Linked DNA regions of Homo sapiens. The protein of the gene in region 3 purifies or fractionates together with the protein of the main gene of each other region. This does not show direct contact. Each region holds a gene or a part of one and is shown on either strand. Other genes may lie near its edges.

Evidence for each region. Proteins that work in one complex are often made in the same cells at the same time.
Region 1: the proteins of KAT2B (region 3) and TADA2A purify together in Homo sapiens (affinity purification with mass spectrometry; 6 studies listed by BioGRID and IntAct, with this or other methods). This does not show direct contact.
Region 2: the proteins of KAT2B (region 3) and TAF5L purify together in Homo sapiens (affinity purification with mass spectrometry; 5 studies listed by BioGRID and IntAct, with this or other methods). This does not show direct contact.

What each region holds. Positions count from the first base shown.
Region 1 is NC_000017.11:37,465,877-37,472,917, reverse strand, and holds part of TADA2A (transcriptional adapter 2-alpha), read right to left. Parts: intron 5,465-7,041; coding exon 5,393-5,464; intron 2,519-5,392; coding exon 2,386-2,518; intron 1,825-2,385; coding exon 1,781-1,824; intron 1-1,780. UniProt on the Homo sapiens protein: Component of the ATAC complex, a complex with histone acetyltransferase activity on histones H3 and H4. Required for the function of some acidic activation domains, which activate transcription from a distant site. Binds double-stranded DNA.
Region 2 is NC_000001.11:229,602,091-229,609,131, forward strand, and holds part of TAF5L (TAF5-like RNA polymerase II p300/CBP-associated factor-associated factor 65 kDa subunit 5L), read right to left. Parts: intron 5,746-7,041; exon of another isoform or gene 5,718-5,745; coding exon of another isoform or gene 5,684-5,717; intron 4,787-5,683; exon of another isoform or gene 4,328-4,786; intron 4,104-4,327; exon of another isoform or gene 4,029-4,103; intron 830-4,028; coding exon 105-829; coding exon of another isoform or gene 99-104; exon of another isoform or gene 1-98. UniProt on the Homo sapiens protein: Functions as a component of the PCAF complex. The PCAF complex is capable of efficiently acetylating histones in a nucleosomal context. The PCAF complex could be considered as the human version of the yeast SAGA complex.
Region 3 is NC_000003.12:20,148,433-20,154,932, reverse strand, and holds the end of KAT2B (histone acetyltransferase KAT2B), read right to left. Parts: coding exon 6,446-6,500; intron 2,602-6,445; coding exon 2,408-2,601; 3' UTR 529-2,407; downstream 1-528. UniProt on the Homo sapiens protein: Functions as a histone acetyltransferase (HAT) to promote transcriptional activation. Has significant histone acetyltransferase activity with core histones (H3 and H4), and also with nucleosome core particles.

The DNA.
Region 1 (7,041 bases), on a different chromosome or scaffold from region 3:
ATGATCATGTTAGCCAGTTCCTTCATTTAATTTAATTAATTAATTTATTTATTTTTTGAGATGGTCTTAACTCTGTCACCCAGGCTGGAGTGCAATGGTGCGATCTTGGCTCACTGAAACCTCTGCCTCCCGGATTCAAGCGATTCTCCTGCCTCAGCCTCTGGAGTAGCTGGGATTACAGATGTGTACCACCACACCCAGCTAATTTTTATATTTTTTTTTCAGGAGAGATGGGTTTTCATCACGTTGGTCAGGCTGGTCTCAAACTCCCAACCTCAGGTGATCTGCCCGCCTCAGCCTCTCAAAGTGCTGGGATTACAGGCATGAGCCACTGCACCTGACCCAGTTCCTTCATTTTAATTAGCCAGTATTAACTTAGTTGTATTTAGATTTTGGGGGTAGAGTGTTGGCAGTAAGAAACTTACAAAATAAAACTTTGATTTCACTGTCTTAGCCACTCCCCTAAAACAATACCTTTTTCTTCTTTCCATATTAAGAAAAAATCACTTGAAATAAAGGAATAAATGGGGGAAAAAAAAAAGTCCCTTCAGTGACCAGGCGCAGTGGCTCATGCCTGTAATCCCAGCACTTTGGGAGGCCGAGGCAGGCAGATCACCTGAGGTCAGCAGTTCGAGACCAGCCTGGCCAGCATGGCGAAACCCCATCTCTACTGAAAGTACAAAAATCAGCTGGGCATAGTGGCAGGCGCCTCTAATCCCAGCTACTTGGGAGGCTGAGGCAGGAGAATCGCTTGAATCCGGAAGGCAGAGGTTGCAGTGAGCCAAGATCGCGTCACTGCACTCCAGCCTGGGTGACAGAGCGAGACTCCATCTCAAAAAAAAAAAAGTCCCTAACGCGGACAAATCTGAGACCCAGATTCTGAATCTACTGAGACATACCTCCCCCAATTCCCAGTCATCGATTACCAATCACCAAGGATCATCAGATAGCGTATGGCTTAATCTTGCTCTGTATACTAATTTCAAAATAGGACATACTCAAAGAGGTAAAACGAAGAAATAGAAATACTTTAGGTCTCTAACTCAGAAATCCTTATGTTTCTGGCAAGTAACATGCTTCTTTGCTCATGTTATATAAAAATAAAAAGTTTAGGCTGGGCACGGTGGCTCACGCCTGTAATTCCAGCACTTTGGGAGGCCGTGGTGGGTGCCTCACTTGAGGTCAGGAGTTCGAGACCAGCCTGGCCAACATGGCAAAACCGTCCCTACCAAAAATACAAAAATTAGCCAGGCGTGGTGGTGCATGCCTGTAATCCCAGCTGTTCGGGAGGCTGGGGCAGAAGAATCACTTGAACCCGGGAAGCGGAGGTTGCAGTGAGCCGAGATCACACCACTGCACTCCAGCCTGGGCGACAGACCGAGACTCTGTCTCAAAAAATAAGTAAATAAATAAAAAATAATAAAATAAAAAGCTTTTAATTTATCTCCTGTGAAATAAGTCTCAAAATTAGTGGTAGACACAACTGCAGTAAACTAACTGCTCATGAACATTGGTAAAATAAAGAAGTTACCTCTCTGAAGTTCTTTTTTCCCCTGTCTCTATACTGTCTATACTCTATACTGTCACTCTGAGGATAGTCTCTGTCTGGCCATGAAGGTTCTGAAAACATACTGATGTTTATATATTGGGCTAACACTTGATTACTGTTACTCTGCCTAAGCACCCTGACACCACAGAGGAAGGAAGATTGCTGGGTCACTATAACCCCTACGATGCAAACTTCACAATTAAGACTTGTTCTGGCCTGAGAAATAATTACCTGAATTCGAAGCCATTGGAATGGAAGGACTCAGGCCGGAATCACTACAACGAAGAAGAGGAATTTAAACTTAGGTCATATCAAACAAGGTGATTTCCAAAAGCCCCGGTGAGACTGGGTGCCATTTATCAGGTAGGTCACCTTGAAGAAGTGTAATGAGATAGACTGAACTATGTTTTACAGATATCTCACTGTATTGAGCAGGAAAGAAAATCTGTTCTGAGGAAGAAAAATTCCTCAGATTTGTTAAGAAGAGCTTGTAATCTAGAACACCACTAACACCACTCAAGGGGAAGGGATACAAACATGATTCCCCAGTGAAAATCTAGGTATGAAGAGAGAGTTGAAGTCATGGGTAGAAGGCTGGGGGAAAATACACTCATTTTAAAAAATAGGATCAAAGTAGTAAAGTATGATTCTAGGAGGTCAGTTATTTCTCAAAACTGTCAGTATGGCACTGTTTCTGAGATGGACTGCTAAAATATTTCTGAATTCTTCCAGCTACTCAATTATTATTACTCTGCCATCTAGGGTGCCCAAAAATATATGTGAAGGCCAAGGCATCCCAGAAAGAATGCCTCCTTCACCCTGGAGTAATTACTCACATGTCAGCTTGCCGGCGGAGCCACTGCTGGCAAGCACTACTGTCCTGGATATACTGGAGAACTTCTGAGAGCATAGTGCGTTTAAGGCGCTCTTCCTCCCGTGTCTTCTTGAGGTGATCGTAGGTTCTGGCACCTGGGGGTATAGAAAACACAATGACCACAATGACAATGCAGCAGAACTGAAGGGCTTCCTAACTGACCAAGAAACCGGTTTTGGGTTTTGTTCTTAAAGTCTGTTTCCTTTGCAAAACTGCTTTCACAATTATTTCTCCAAGACCCAAGTAGATTTTCCCTAGTCTGAAATCCTTTTCTTAATACTAAGTATTAAATATTAAACATTTGTATTCCTTTTCTATCTGTAAGAAATAAGGGGAAAAAAACCAACAGAAAAGTACAAAGAAAGTAAGAATTGCTCATATTTCCACTCTCAAAAAGTAACCAACTTTTACTATAGTCATATTTGCTTCCTGTTTTTTCTATTTTTATAAATTTTTTCAAAGTCACACAAGTGCTATAAGCATATGCCTTTCCTTAAAAAACAATTAGAATTACAAAAAAAGAGTTCTCTTTGACATGTAGTACCTCTTCTCCATATTTCTTAGAGGCAGCCAATATCAGGAAACCAAAATTAGTTATCAGAGTCTCTATATGCATCTTGCTAAACAGAAGAGCTGCGTGGTGTTTTCTACATGTTAACAAAGGTTCACAGATTCCAAAATACTGCACCAGTGGGTTTCAAAATTCAAACTAGGTTCCACAGAGCCCCAGGATACCACAAGAGTATCTTAGAGGTTAATGTAAAGAGAAAGGGCACTGCCAGATACCGGCGGGTCCTGGGCTCTACACATAAATTGAACCATTAAAGTTCAACCAAAGTAATTCCACTTTTATCTTTTTTTGAGACGGAGTTTCGCTCTTGTTGCCCAGGCTTGAGTGCAATGGCGCGATCTCGGCTCACAGCAACCTCCACCTCCCAGGTTCAAGCCATTCTCCTGCCTCAGCCTCCGGAGTAGCTGGGATTACAGGCATGCGCCACCATGCCCAGCTAATTTTGTATTTTTAGTAGACACGGGGTTTCTCCATGTTGGTCAGGCTGGTCTTGAACTCTGGACCTCAAGTGATCCGCCCGCCTCGGCCTCCCAAAGTGCTGGGATTACAGGTGTGAGCCACCGTGCCCAGCCCACTTTTATCTTATTTGTAGATTGGGGCTCACACAAAATTTAATTTCAAAAATGGTTTCCACTGTTAAAGAGCCATTATACTAGGCTGAACTTACATCCATAAGGCTATGTTGCACCCACAGGGCTGTGTTAAGAAGCCAACTATTGCCGGGCGTGGTGGCTCACACCTGTAATCCCAGCGCTTTGGGAGGCTGAGGTGGGTGGATCACCTGAGGTCAGGAGTTCGAGATCAGCCTGACCAACATGGATAAACCCCATCTCTACTAAAAATACAAAAAAAAAAATTAGCCGGGTATGGTGGTGCATGACTGTAGTCCCAGCTACTCAGGAGGCTGAGGCAGGAGACTCGCTTGAACCTAGAAGGCAGAGGTTGTGGTGAACCAAGATGGCACCACTGAACTCCAGCCTGCGCAACAGAGCCAGACTCCGTCTCAAATAAAAAAAAAAAAGAAGCCAACTATTTCTTATAGATAGTAGGTGACAACTATCAATAATCACAAAAACTTCAAATAGGAAGAAGGAGGGAATGCTAAAGATCATTTCAACAATGACAGCAAAACAACAGAAACTGCCATTTATTGAGGAATTATTGTGTGCCAGATACTGTGCTATGCTTATATGCAGTATCTCTAATTAAATCTTTACACTAACTCTAAGAACCTTAGAAAATTAAAACTTGAATAGAGGCCAGGCACAGTTGCTCACACCTGTAATCCCAGCACTCTGAGAGGCCTAGGCGGGAGGACTGCTTGAGGCCAGGAGTTTGAGACCAGCCTGGGCAACATAGCAAGAGTCAGTCTCTAGGGAAAAAAAAAAAAGGAAAGAAAAATAAATTTGGATAGAATCACATCACAGAGCTGGCAAGCTGGAGAGCCAAAATTTATACTCAAGCTTTTTAAGTCTAGACCCAAGCTCTTAACTACTATAATACACTATCTCTTATGACCTGGTTCTAGTACTAACTAGCTCTGTAACCTCTTTATACCTTAATTTCTTCACTAAATGGAAGTAACGGTACTTTATAAGTTTGTCATGAGAATTCATTGACTTGATCCAAGTGAAATGGTTAGCATAGAGACTGGTACATGGTAAATATCTGATAGATGTTAGCTGCTAATAATATAATTATTGTCACTACCCCAAGTAACTGGGATGCAAGCACCTGGAGCCAGTTGAAGCTTCATTATTTTATAAAAATGCTAAGACCATGTATCATTAAATTTGAAAAGGGTGACACACCTAAAATATAAAATTCCTTTTTTTTTTTTTTGAAACAGAATCTCCCTCTGCCACCCAGGCTGGAGTACAGTGGCACCATCTTGGCTCACTACAACAACTGCTTCTCAGGTTCAAGCGATTCTTGTGCCTCAGCCTCCCGAGTAGTTGGGATTAAACGTGTGCACCACAACGCCTGGCTAGTTTTTTTATTTTTAGTAGAGGTAGGGTTTCACCATGTTGGTCAGGCTGGTCTCGAACTCCTGGACTGAAGTGACCCACCTGCCTTGGCCTCCCAAAGTGCTGGGATTACAGGTGTGAGCCACTGCACCCGGCCCAAGATTCCCTTTTTTTAAAGAGCCTCGGCAGAATCCTAAATCTAAAGCAGCACCTCTCTTTCCTTTGTCTCACAACTTTTGTAGTACCAAAGATAATCTATACAAAGGTATTTATAGGGATTAAATAGCCAAAACTTTACTGGAAAGGTTTAAAGCATTCTGGTAAAGGAAAGCTTGTTTTTTAAAAAAAAATTCACAACAATTCAGAGACTTCCTCTGTGTGTCTGGAAGATACTTGCCCTCAAGTACGGTATGTAGCTGAAGCATACTTACTACAAAAATTGGTAATGCCTGCTGTCCTGTATTCTTGGAGCCTCTTGATTTCCCTTCGGAGTTCAAATTCCACTGTTTTCCCCAAAAGGAATGAAGGAAAAAATTACAAAAACAAAAGCAACATTAGTGAGCACTTTTGCTATTGAGCATTTTCATTAATTCTGCCTTATAAGACTAGGGAAGTTCATTTGGAGAATCCTACTCGTTGGTAACTTCTCATTAGAAATTTTACCCAAGAGCTGAGGAAAACCTACTCCAGCTATCTTCCAGCTGCTGTCTCCAGATGCAGCAGCTGGAACTGTCTTCTAGAAAACTTAGTGAAATGGTTAAATTCATTTGTCTACAAAAGTAACAATTTTTTTTTTCTTTTTTTGAGACAGAGTCTCGCTCTGTCGCCCAGGCTGCAATGGCATGATCTCGGCTCACTGCAACCTCCACCTCCCGGGTTCAAGCAATTCCCCCTGCCTCAGCGTCCTGAGTAGCTGGGATTACAGGCATCTACCACCACACCCGGCTAATTTTTGTATTTTTAGTAGAGATGGGGTTCTGCCATGATGGCCAGGTTGGTCTCGAATTCCTGACCTCAGGTGATCCACCCGCCTCGGCCTTCCAAAGTAGCTGGCATTATAGGAATGAGCCACCGCACTGGGCAAAATATAATTTTTTTAACAACCAAGTTTCCCTGCTCTAACTATCTTCTATTAAAAGTTCTACAAATCATTCTAATTTGGCTGCTTTTGAAACAGAGAATGAAGGAAGAGCCTGGACAATCCATGGGGTGTAGTGTTTTGGAATGACACATAAACCAGGGGTGTGTCCCAAACTGGGACAGGAAGTAAAGGATCAGTCACCTGGTACAAACCACACAAAGAATGCTAACCAAACAAGGTGTTTGGTGAGGACAACCAACCTGGCTCAGATAAATGTCTGCAATGCTATGTAAGAAATATTTTCACGGTGAGAATAAGGGCCTTAGTAGACTACCTTCCCAGAACTAAACTTAGAAGCCACATACACAAATGTCATGATGAAAGGTACAGAACAAGCCAGAGTCCATATTATTTTAACAATCTAGGCCTTACTGCCATACCAACATATTTTGTTTTGAAACAGGGTCTCACTCTGTCGCTCAGGCTGGAGTGCAGTGGTGTGATCTCAGCTCACCGCAACCTCGGCTACCCGGGTTCAAGCAATCCTCCCACCTCAGCCTCCAAAGTAGCTGAGACTACAGGTGTGCACTACCATGCCTGGCTAACTTTTGTATTTTTGTAGAGATGGAGTTTTACTATGTTGCCCAGATTGGTCTCGAACTCCTCGACTCAAGCAATCCTCTTGCCTTGGCCTCCCAAAGTGCTGGGATTACAGGTGTGAGCCACCACGCCCGGCCTCATAACAACTTTTAATTTTTTATAGTGAAAAATCAAATGGTAACTATGTAGAGCTCTCACAGAAATACCACAGAAAGGCAAGAGATCGATGGAAGTACTATCTCCACAAGCTATCCATCTCTGTCCTCATTTTTAAAACTACTTTTAATACTAAAATATTTATGAACAAAATAAAATGATGTCTGGGATTTGCTTCAGAATAATCCAGTTGAGGGCAGGAGGGAAGAGTGAGTGGTAAAGATGAAACCAGACTGGCCATGT
Region 2 (7,041 bases), on a different chromosome or scaffold from region 3:
TGAGGGAAACTAGGAAGTCCATTCTAAGATATGTCGTGTTTGGTAAGGACATTCTAAGGAAATTAGGAAGGCGGGTGCAGGGAAGAAAAAAATGGTATTCATACCTCCTCCTCCAGAATATCACAAGCCAAATGGATGCGGGACACGTCTACTTGGTGGGGCTCTGATTTTAACTTCTTGGATCGTAAACTCCAAAGTTTTATACAGGAGTTGTCAAACCCAGCAGCAAGCAGCTTGCTATCGGGGGAGATTTCTGCAGTGTTCAACAGCTGCTCTGTGTTATAGAAGGCATAGAAGCAGATGGTAGTGAGGGAGGGAGGCCCATCCTTGACTCGCTTAATGCTCTCCTGTAAGACCTCTAGGGCAGCCTCGTTCTGCAGAATAGGGCTGGGCATGTCGGGGGGCTCCAAACCGTTGTTCTCACTGCGGGAGGAGCTGCCACTGGCATACAGCTGATAGTCTGTTCTCTTGGCAGGCTGCACGTCAAGATGAATATGTAAGGTGAGGACTTTGCACAGGGCAGTATTGTTGTCACTTTGGAGGTAGCGGATAAGGTAGTTGTAGCTGTCTTCTTGGAGACGGACCACGTACTTGTTATCTAGGAATGCTCGAAGCTTGAAGTTAGATAGGATGTCCTGGATGGTTTGAGTGGTCTGTAGCTGCTCAATGACATCCTTCTGGCTAGCATTCTGCAGAAACATTCCATGGAAGCGGCTGTAAAAACTTTCCACTGTGCTCTTCGGACTGTTTTGGACCAGGTTGAGATGGAGGTAGACAAAGAGAGGATAGAGGAGAGGCATCACTTCGTGGCTATGCTGGGAATCAGAATCTATAATGAAAGAAAAAGAAGGCTTTATAATCAGCATAATCTTACAGAATAACGTGATCCCTCCTGGGGATCACCACCATCATATAATGCTTTCTTGCCAGGACCCCATTTTTTAAGAGTACTGATTGAACTATAAGCCCAACACAGGATTCTGGAATTTCAAAGGCCTTTTGATTGAAGAAAGAGCATGAACTCTGAAGTCCAGCAAATCAGGGCCTGAAGTTGGGCACAACGCAGGAACTTAATGCCCAGAGTGGTTAAGTGACTTGCCAGAGTTCACAACAATACAGTGGCTTGTACCCAGGTCTTCAAGATTTAGTATTTTTTCCCAATATGTTAGTGTTTCTTCAAATTGGGGACCTCAGATATCTGAGGGTACTTAGACATATTCTTGGAAGATTGAGTTCTTCACAATTTTTTAATGTGATGATAATATAAAAAATAATCAACACACAGTATATTCAGAATTATCTGGATGTCCGCTTAACAAGTAAGTACTGACAAGTGATTTTAGTGCTCTAGTTTGTGTTTTGTGATTACTTTTGGCATCCATTGTCTCAAGTAAAATCAAAGCACTTATTTTAGTGGGCTCATTAACATGTCTGGTTATACAGGCTGGCGTGTCCTGTGTTAACATGACAGCCTTCATTAACAATTGTCTCATCAGCATATTCATTCTGATTTTGTTGGTTAACAAGTTAAATTCTCTTTTGCAGTGATAATTTACAAATAAGACCATTTTACGTCATTAAGACTCAACTACTTACTAACTTGGGAGTTTAGCGCCATGAAACTGTAAGACAGAGAATGTTATTTAAAAGGTGTACAGCTTGAATTCATGGGTGAATGAGAAAAGAACAGAGGTATAATTGACACCTAAATAAGTGCTTAAGGCATGCTGTGAGGGAGCAAAGGTTTCGATGTGATTCATACACAGTGGGGAGACAGCAGGGCCACTGCAGGGCAGAAGCCCCCCAAGGAGCTGAGACCAGCCCGTGTCACAGTCACCAGTGCTGTCCAGATGCCTGCTTGCAGTAGCAAGGTAGTTCTGGCAAAATCCATCCGTTACATTCACTCAGTGTTATTTTCAACTTGACTGCCTTTGGGGTTTTGCTTGTCCCTTATCTGTAATGAGTCTGGGTTTCATAAAGAAATATAATAAGCATAAAGGTTTTAGATCTAGTGTAATGTTTGTACATATTTAAATAAATTAAAATAAAAATGTTTTAAGTCAGCACTTATGTTCTGGTAGCATTTTTTTTTTTTTTCATGAAAAGGCATCAATACAGGGTTTAAGACTGAGGAATACTGCATCAGAGAATCTTGCTCCCTAATTTGATGATAAAAGATATCTGCATGTTATTTCTGCTTAACACCCTATTTCACTTTATCACAAGGTGAATGAATCTGCTGCATAATATTCATAATATGCATTTTAGAATAAATGTATCCCTACTCATTATTTAGAGGATGAAAAATTACAATCATTCCACTGAACTGGAAGTTAAGACAGCCACCCAGCCACTTTGGGCTCCTCACACCTCTGAATCAATAGGCAAGGAAGGGAGTTACAGTGTTGGCTGGGGTAATTGATCCTGCCCAAGAGGAACTGGAACTGCTACACAATGGAGGTAAGGAGGAGTATGTCTGGCTTAAGGAGATCCCTTAGGACATCTCTGTACCCTGCCCTGTGATTACAGTCGATAAAAATGACAACAATCCATACAGGACTATGAATGGCCCACACCCCTGAAGAATGAAGGTTTGGGTCACCCCACCAGGTAAACCACGATCAGCTTGCGAGATGAGTGCAAAGGGAATACAGAATGGGTAGTGGAAAGAGGCAACCATGAATACCAGCAACCACCATGTGACCAGCTACAGAAACGAGGACTGTAATTGTTGTATTTCTTGTTTTGTTACGAATGTTTTGGTGTGAATATCTATATATAGATATATAAAAAGAAAATATCTTCGCATTCTTTCCTTTCTCGTTCCCTTATCATGGAACATCGGATTACTGACTTTATTTTTTTGAGATGGAGTCTCGCTCCGTCACCCAGGCTGGAGTACAGTGGCGCGATCTCGGCTCATTGCATCCTCTGCCTCCTGGGTTCAAGTGATTGTCCTGCCTCAGCCTATTGAGTAGCTACAGGCGTGTGACACCACGCTCAGCTAATTTTTGTATGTATATATATATATATATGTATTTTTTTTTTAGTAGAGATGAGGTTTCATCATGGTGGCCAGGTTGGTCTTGAGCTCCTGACTTTAAGTGATATACCCATCTCAGCCTTCTGAAGTGCTGGGATTAAGGGTGTGAGCCACTGTGCCTGGCCAGATTACTGACTCCATATCATAGTATTTAAGTATTGTTAACTTTACCTCACCGTATCAAAATTATGGAATATCACGGAGAGGAGTAAACATCATCCAAGGACTTTGCATTCTCCTCCGGGGAAAAGGTTAGTGTGTTTTTTGGTTGTACACAGGATAATTTTATTAGGTTAGGTGGAAGTATGAACTTGTTATTCTCTTTATTTGGAGATTAAGTATGGAATAAGGAGATGCATACAGGTGCCAAGTTAATAAGGAGTGGACTTGTGAGGTTACTTTTACATGTCAAACTGTGGGGGGGCCCACGGCACACAGATATTCAGTCAAACATTATTTTAAATGTTTCTGTGAAGGTATTTTTTTTTTTAGATGAGATTAACACATTTAAGTCAGTAGACTTTGAGTAAAGCAGATTACCTTCCATAAAGTGTGGGCCTCATCCAATCAATCAATCAATCAGTTTAGGCTTTAATAGAAAAAGACTTATCTTCCCCTAGTAGAAGGAATTCTGCCAGCAGAGAGCCTTTGGATTTGAACTGCAACACTAACTCTTTCCTGGGTCTCCAGCCTGCTGGCCCGCCCTGATTTTGAATGTGCCAAGCCTCCACAATTGCATGGAACAATTCCTTAAAGTAAACCTCTACATATCCATCCTGTTGGCTCTTGGCTGTTTCTTTCGAGAACTGTGACTAGATTTTGGTTTTTCTTTTCCCTTTGTTTTTTATTGGGATGAAGGATTGTTTTCAATTCCTTAGAAACAAAATTTCAGGCTCCTTTTCTAAAATGAGAGGCATTTCAATTGAGTAAGTTTAGAAAAAAACCTAGCTATCAAGAAATAGTGATGTACTACTTTAAAACTTACTGAAATTCACTGTTGCTTCAGCTCATAGGTTCAAAATTGCTTAATTGCTCTCTCTTGTCTGAAGAGAACAGTATGCTGGGTATAAAACAAAAAAACTGATCAATTTGGAAGAAGGTGAGATTCAGAATTCTAACTCCCATTTTAAATTATTCCCTTGCAATCTAACATACTCTGTATTTTACTGAAAGTGTACTCACTTAAAATATATTTTTTTCTAACTGCAAAAGTAACAAACATATCCTCTGAAAGTACACTTTTTCTTCCTTCTATCTACCCACTGAAATGTAATGAATGCCTACCTGGTGCCCAACTCTACTGGCGGTAAATGAGAGAACAATGGAGTTTTTCATGAGTTCATGGAAATTAGTAGTAAAAAGGATACTAAATTAAACAAAACTAATCCTGTCGGTCCTCATTCTCCTCTACCTTTCTTCAAGGTTTGGCTCTATTGACTAGCACTCCTCTGTCCTTTATTCTGAAAGCCCACACTACTTGGTCCTGTCGTCACTCCCTTTTTGGTTCCTCTTCCTCCTGTCAATCCTCAAATGCTCATTTCACTTTAAAGAATTAACACTGGGTGTGTGCCTCTTAGGAGCCAGGTACTTTGCATCCATGATCATGTTTAAGAGTCACAGCTGGCCCTGGTTCAAATCCAGAGGTTGCTTGACTCCAAAGGCTGTGTTCTTCCCACTACACCTCCTGAAGAATAGGACCTACGGCAATAGGTGAGCTCACAGAATCTCTCATCTACAGACAACCTGTGGAGGAAAAATACATTCAGGTGGATATAGACATAGATACTCTTATATCTTTCCCTAGTATCTTCCTTTGAGATTTTATCACTTCTTAAGACTTTAATTTGCATCTCCATGTAGCTGATGCTACATGTTCTTTATTACAAGTCTTTATCTTTCTCCTAAATCCTAGCCTCAAATTTCCCACTGCAAGCTATGCAGTAGGATGCCACTGTCATGACAATTTAACAAACATAAACCCTTCTGACTTATTTATTTTCAATAAATCTTCATCTCCACTCCAGTCTTAAAGCCTGAGCCATCGTCACCTCTTCTTCCTCCTTTACTCCTGAGCCTTGGAGATTCCACCTTGGTAATTTAACTATGAAATAAAGCTCCTGCCTTCCAGTTCCACAATGCTGTCAAATTCTGGTCCTTTCTCACCTCATTTCTCAAGATTGCCAAGCACTTTAATTCACAGTCAGTCTCCCTGCCATTCCTCTTACAAATAATTTTACAAACTGCTTTCAGACTAATATTCATTGATCTCCAGCCTGAAACCCCCATTCACAACAAAGCCTTAGTTGTTCCTGTACAGTCGTCAAGCCTGCCTTTTTGCTCATGTTATTTCTTACCCAAATTACTCCTCTTCCTCCTCCTCTTCCAGTCTACTGAAACTCAATCCATCCTTCAAGTGCTGACTTAAAGCCTACCTCCTGCTCAGTAAAGCCTTCTCTGACTACCGCCAACCAAATCACTTTCTCCTTTCATTCTGAATGCAATTCCTATATGATTCAGCAATTGATCTCATGCTGGTCTGTGAAAGTGCTTCTGTGATATTCAAATTTTATGTAAAAACTTTTACCTATAGTGTTTTTATGCTAGGACTGCTTCTAAAATAGATTAATGAGTATATCTTACACTTTATCTTGGTGATCAGGAAATAACTATTCATTTGATTTGGTTAACTGCTCTTCAGAGACCTGAGGGTAGAGAAAAATATTCCAGGAGCAGCAGTCCAAAGTGATCAATATATATTAACCCCTTTAAAATAATGATCCTTTAAACCAAAGGATTAAAGAATCAAATTACAGACAAAATAACAGACAACTTTCTCAGTTCAGAAATAAAGTAAGAACTTAAAGGAAATGGTTGATAGACTATAATCTTTTGAAATGTAAAGTTCTGGCCAAACAATCCTTGTGGTAATAATTTTTAATGGTAAACGACGAGTATACAGTAATCAATATATAAACCAAAATAATACACCTGGCCTTACACACGCATAGAATTATCCTAGTTTTACCTGGCCCCCATAATGGTATTTTAAAGCAAAGAATCTATATTTACTATAGTCTACAGTTGGAGAAAATGGTCAAAATATTACAGGAAATAAGGGTTACAAAATAAAACCCTCTAGTGGGGTTATCTTATCAGTTTCATGGTTGTTGGGTGACAGAATTCATAAGTAGAGAATAGTCTGTTTAATAGTTACAAAAACGAAAAATCATGAAAATTAAGGCTTTAGTAAAATGACTCTATTATGTTTGAAAAAAAGGAAGTTCCATTAATTCTGCATATCATATAAATCTTAAATATTTCAGTGCAGTGATCAATTTCCACTAAGGATAAAAAAAGAAAAACCGAATTTATAATAAGGGTTTCTTTCATTGAGAGGTAAGAACTTAGAGATATTTTTTATCATTGGCATTGGTTTCTGAGGCTTTAAGCAACTTGCAGAAAAATTTAACTCAGTTTTTAGAAAGTTATTTTACTCAGTTAAAAAAATATGATATTAATCTCTCCATGACAGATTTATTTTCACCATACTAGTGGTGGGGAAGCTGGTTTAGAAACAAATGTCTTGGCTGGGTGTGGTGGCTTGTGCCTACAATCTCAGCACTTTGGGAGGCCAAGATGGGAGGACTGCTTGAGGCCTGGAGTTTGAAACCAGCCTGGGCAACACAGTGAGACCCTGTCTCTACAAAAAAATTTAAAAAAATTAGCCAGGTGTTGTGGCACATGCTTGTGGTCCCAGCTACTCAGGAGGCCGAGATGGGAGGATCACTTGATCTCAGAAGGTCAAGGCTGCAGTGAGCCGTGATCATGCCACTGCACTCCTGCCTGGGCAACAGAACAATACCGTCTCAAAAAAAAGAAAAAGAAGCAAATTATCTGGCTTCTTTGAGCCTGTCTCCTTCATTCGTTCAGCCTGTATTTATGTTAAGTGCTGACTACATGCCAGGATAGATATTGTCCTAAGATATATTGATATGGTC
Region 3 (6,500 bases):
TTAAAGGTAATACTTTGGCCATCATATGCCTTTTTTTTTTTTTTTTAACTTCTCAGTTGGTTTAGATTTCAGTAGGGAAGAGGGGTTCTCTTGGTTGGGTCCTCTCAAACCCCAAAAGGATATAGTATTCTTTCCTACAGACATCATTTTGAATCACATTAGAAGCTCATATGGGAGATGTTTAAAAATCGGCTGTATTTTTCTCTCATCATATATATTTCACAGATGCAAAGTATAAAAACAAAAATCTTTTAATTTCTAAACCAACAACACTCTTCTTTCAATGAATCTTTTTTGTTATTGTTTAGCGGGTGAGTGGGTAAGATGCAGTGGATAACTCAAAAGACAGAGTAAGTGTCTCTCCTGAAAATCTCTTACTGATGACCTATGGATTTTTTATGAAACCTCCCCCAAATGCAACAGAATGCTTAAGATCTAAGGTTTAAGGATTCAATTGATGGTTATCAACCAGATCATAATTTGTTCTGTTAACCTCAGCCTACTGAATGAATAAAACACACCACAAGATTGGAAGCTTTTTAAAATATAATTTAAAACTATTTTGTACCAGTACAATATATTAATTTTACAAATGTAAAATTTTTATCAGCTGTTAAAGCATTTGCAAAAACCACACATTCTACTTCAGCTTTATTGCACAATATCTATAAGAAAATATTAATTTTTAAATTAGAAAACATAAAAATGCTTTCAATATAGAAGAGACAATCTGATTTTAAAGACAATACTCTATAAGAATGTCTACTCAGAAAATAACAAACTTTCACAGGATACCAGCTGGACAGATGCTTCAGCAGATCCGGTACAAAGCACTGTTTAAAACCAGTCCAAGATACTTAATCCAAACTGTATCATGATTCTTCATTAGAAATCTAGACACCACTCATGGTGGTTTCTTACACTTTAAAAAGTTGAGGCATTTTCAGTGTGAGCATTCTGAATATCTCTTACATATCAAAAACAATACTTCCAACTCAATAGCCATTTGCAGGGTTCTTTTTCCTTCATGCAGATTATCACTGGCAACTGTTTTTAATGACTATTCATGACCATTTTATTTATGCTGATAGAAAACATCAAGTTAAATACGCTTTTAAAACTTTGTCCTTTACAAAAATCAGTGTATAAATTTGCATCATAAAAATTAGTGTTGAGACCATCAAGATGGCCTTCATTTATATGGTTGTATATTAGTTGGTTTTCCCAGAGTTGGGAATGGCAGATGTCTCACTTTTCTATGTAGTGTAATCAGGAAATAAATCCAAGCACTAAACTGGAATCCCAAGACAGATTAATAAGGTTGCATGATGGATTTTAGGGGGTTATGACCCTGGACGCATATACTAATGTGGGTGTTAAAATACTGACAGCAAACCCTGGTGGGAATTTAATTTACCTCAGACAATAAACATTATCTGGAGAGACATAAAGGAAAATGTTCATTTGCATATTATCAGCGTGGCTGTGTGTATCATAGAAAAGAAAAAGAACCTTTATTAGAACGAGGATTCACCAGATTGATACATATATAGACCATACATCTTTTCCTATTAAAGCATGTTGATTCAATCTCATGTGTTTTCAAGTTTATGCCTTTGTGGGCAGGGAAATTATCTTTTGGAACTTATGGCCTGCATAAGCAAAGTCAAATATGATATTACACATTTGTGTAGAGAAAATAATTATTAAAATAGTGGTTATGTACTAACAAGTTTGTTGTAAGTAGACAGAATTATCAAAAACCTAGATGCTTATTTTAAAAGTTTGCATTATTTAGAATTTCTTCCTTAGGAACCAAAGCAGTTGCTTTCCTGGAACTGCATTTTTCAGAACTGCTCAAAGCACCTCATCTAGATGAGTGTTTTAAAAAATATATATAAAAAGTCTATAAAGAGACTTCAAACATCACATATTTCACCTCTTACAGGCTTTTTTAAAATCATGTATCCCTTCCTTAAAGTCCTTCAGAATAAAATAAAAGTAAACTCTCACATTCCATTAGAAAAAAATGGAAACATTCATTCATGGTCTGAAAATGTTATGGATTTCCCCAAATTTTGCTACTGTGTGCAATTTCCTCACACACAGGTTTTGAGGAAACCCCTAATCATCTATCATGAAATAGCTAATGGACATGCCATAGAAAATTTACCTTAATAGTAGTAAATAGATTAAAATCTATTCCATAAAATAAAAATGTCCTATGACTTCAATTTAAATACATATCTGAAAAGCTAAAAGGAGGTTTTTTGTTTTTTCAAAAGTGCTAATTATTACATTTACAAGTCTCTTCAATACATCATGTCCAATTCTTTGTAAAAAACTAAACCACCTTGCTTTAGGCACACTGCTTGGTGAGTTTCTAAGAAGCAGAGGGGAAAAAAAATCACTTGTCAATTAATCCAGCTTCCTTAATTTTACTGAAGAAGAATTTCTCCAGGATATTGGCACATTTGTAGTATTCACTCTCAGGGGGGTTGTACTCTTTGCAATTGGTAAAGACTCGCTGTAAGTCTGCCATGAATAATTTCTTAGACACGTAGTACCTATTCTTGAGGCGTTCACTCATGGTTTTCAGATCTGCACAGGAAAAAAAAATATTAGCAATCTTTGACTCCCTTTAAACACCAGCTGACAAAACTGGGACTGGGAAAGGAATCTATGTTGTTGGTTTGATTACATTTTTATCATCCCAATGCTTTTATTTAAGAGAAATTCTTATGACCAAGGAAAACAGTTCTTAAATCTTAAGTTCATTCTTTTGTGGGTTTTTTAAAAATGTAAAATCACAGCCATTTTAGCATTAAAGGGACCATTATTAGTCATCTGGTTCAATCCCCTATTCAGCACAAGGAAGCTAAGTAGATTAGCAACAATAAGTATGATGAACTGACTACTGTTAGCTATTCAGTCAGAATTATACAGAAGAGGCTCTATCTATATGGAGTAGAGCAGGTGGAACGTTTGTATTCAATCATTTAATTACTTAAAACAATCAGACTGCATTTGTTTCACTAAACTCACAGTTGTTTTGGTGTCATATAGAGAAACTGATAATAAATACATCTGTGAACACACCAGTGCCCTTGCATGTAAAATGATTCAAATGAATTTGCTTCAAGCTCCATCAATGAAATAAGAATAACAAACTTCATTTAATAATCTATTTTCTAAAGCAAGTAAGCCTTGTGAGACTATTGCAAAGAATATTTCCCAATATAGCTACTTGCTTTAAATTGTAGTATTTTACAGGTGAAAACAGTACTCCATCTAAACTGATAAAACTAAAGTAGGGTTTCTTCAATCCTCACTGTCAGGACTAATTTAAGGAATTCTATGCAGATTAGAATAGACGCTAACATTTGTCTATTTATGGTTCCCTGGTTGTCTTGAAGTCTGGCTTTATTGTTAAAAGCTATAATTGTATTAACTATGTGTGGAAAAATAAGTCAAATGGGAAAAAAAAAACCCCACTTCTGACTACCAATATCCCAAATTATAAGTATGTTATAAAATTTCCAGGGGGAAAGAAACCTATAACCAAATACATTGGGATCATCATTTAATAAGGTAAGTAAATGTACGTACAATATCCCCAAATGGGAAGGAATTCATTTGCATCAATATCCTAAATCCACCACAAAAGCATCAAAGAAGAAATGGAAAAAAGCTGCTTCTGCCTATCTCTTGAATAAAGCCTATCTTGGTTAGAGTGTATGTCATCACATCTGTAAATTCAACTTTCAACTTTTCTTTCTTCTCTAAAACAGTTTGGAGAGAGATAAAAATCTAAAAGCGCTAAGAAACACAAAGACTCATCAAATCTCACACTAAATGTCCCATCCAAGTGTGACTGAACAGATCAAAATGTTCTCTCATTTAAAGAAGAAAAAAACAATGAAATTGGCCCTAAGTAAAAGTAGATGTTTACATTCCTTTCACTTTTCCACCTAAATGTCTACCACTTAAGATATGCTGCCCAATATAATATGTATAATGTTTTAAAAGGAAGAAACATGTACCCCCCAAAAAGGGGGAGGGGGAGTAAAAGGATGACACGACACAAAGAAGTTTGTCCAAAAGCTTTTCGAACTTTTTTAGGAGATGGGTAAGAAAAGATGGAGAGAGCCTAAAATGCAGCAGAAACAAAGCAAGAATTATGGCGGTGTCTGGACTTTTCTGAATAACTATAACCAATTCTGAATACTTCCTTTCTATTCTAAAGCTATAGATAGCATTCTTCTTCCTCTGGCCTTCGTAGAGTTTTTTCAATTGACAAAATGAGGTGGGTTAAAAAAGGTGACTAAATATTGGTGGTACCAAATATAGAGACACCATTAAATTATTCAGTTTTCATGTCCTTTCCCCTTAACTTGGGAATTCTGGGTAAGCAGCAAAACCCTGCCTAGCCATCCATGGGTAACAAGAAGTCATGCTTGGGCCAGACTATACAGCTGATGTCCAGTGTGTGACTCCCTAAGTAAAACAGGTTAGATCCCATCCATATGAGAGAAACAGTTTTTCAGAATATGGGGAAAGAAAAGTAATGTTATTAGAAAAATCAAATAAGGAAATCGTGGGAAAATGTAAAATTACTGATTTGTCAATCTTGTCTTCAAATACAAGATAATCTTGGGGACAAGACTAAATATTTTACTCAGCATCTGAACAATACCAAGAAAAAAAATACTGCCCTACTGAAGAACACCATTTATAGCTTTAACTTTGTCCAGCACACATTTCAGCCCATCACTGGCCTTGCTCAATTAGGTCAGTTTCCCCCCTTGTGAGACTCAGCTATGCATACAGGTGGTATCCAACTGGAGAAGTTCACAACCTTCACGGGTGGGACCAAGCAAAACACTTTCAGAAAGCAGGCTGCAAGTAGGCTATGATCGACGAGATCTGCTAGACCTATCGCTGCACGTCATCAGAGTGCATGTGCACAGGGGCTGAAAGGGCCCCAAAGTCACACAGCTTCCCATGGGGGTTTCCCAAAAGAAGCTGAGATGGTCCAGAGGAAGAGGATGCAAAAATCAGTTAATTTATGGTTGGAAATGGACACAAAGAGTTTTAACATATTTTGCACATAGTGGACAATATTGATTCCCAAATCAGCCTTCCATTCAGAATTCTAGACTGAGTCAACCATACCCTTTATTTTCTTGTACTGAAATAAATAGTGGTAAGTCAGAGAGAAGAGAGAAAGAAAAGCATATAGATGTGTGTTCACTTTAAAGGGTGTAGGCTACTGAAATCATTACTACAAATATATAAAATATTCATGTGAAACATTTAAATGCTATAGAAAACACCTGTAAATAACTCAGTTTTCAAGGAGCTAATGCGTCCCTTTCACTCTTCCTTTTCACATTTTTAACACTTCCACAATTTTTTTTTTTTTTTTTTTTTTTTTGAGATACGGTCTCCCTCCAGTGCCCAGGCTGAAGTGCAGTGGTGCAATCACAGCTCACTACAGCCTCAAACTCCCAGGCTCAAGTGATCCTCCAACCTCAGCCTCCCAAGTAGCTGGGGCCTCAGGCGTGTGCCACTGCACCTGGCTAATTTTTTACTTTTTGTAGAGACAGGGTCTCACTACATTACCCAAGCTGGACTTTCACAGTTCTTAGCACCTGGAATAGATTACAGGTAGAAAAGAGACAGAAGACTCTGGCTCTCTCCAAAAATATGGCCACATAGCTGATAAAAAGAAAACATTTCAACTGGTTGTCACCCACACAATGCCAAATTAGTTTAATTTGAGCGACCTCAAATGATTCAATTAATCATTAATTTTAGAGTGGTGTGGGCACAGCACCAAACTGCACAATTCTACATTTCTGAAGACATCCTTTTTTGTTTGATTTTGGATATGAGACAAAGCGTAAAATAAAGAGTATATACAGTGACATTAACAGTACCCATCAAGGGCATGGAAAATCAAGAATTGTGGTAAGTAGAATTTCTCCCTCTGAAAGTACAGCAGTCAAGTACTTTAATCTAACTTCTTTCATTATTATCCTGAATAATTATTCAAAGGAATACCTATTTACGACAGACGCAAAGCATATCAAGAGGATAAGCTGATGTTTTTCTATTTGCACCAAAGAGTTAGAATATAAGCAAAGTTATATCTAAAGTGCCAGCTTTCAAATCTAGTGCTGTCTGCAGTTACCGTGGATTTTCTGCGTCTAGTGTCGTTAAGCTCATGTGGGCTCTAAACGACAGCTGCAGAATGTCTCTAATGAACACAGCCACCCACTTCTCTGCCATCACTGACCCGCCACGGTGCATGGAATCCCACCACCCGTCATACACTTCCTACCCTAAGCAGAGGAGTACAAATCAACCTCAGCAACCATTTGTCCCCCACACCGCCATCCAGAGTTTTAAATCTATACTTAGAAAATGTTAATGGTATTACCCATGGGGAACCTTATAACTTCATAATATCCTGGAGCTTCTGTTCTCTTCACAGG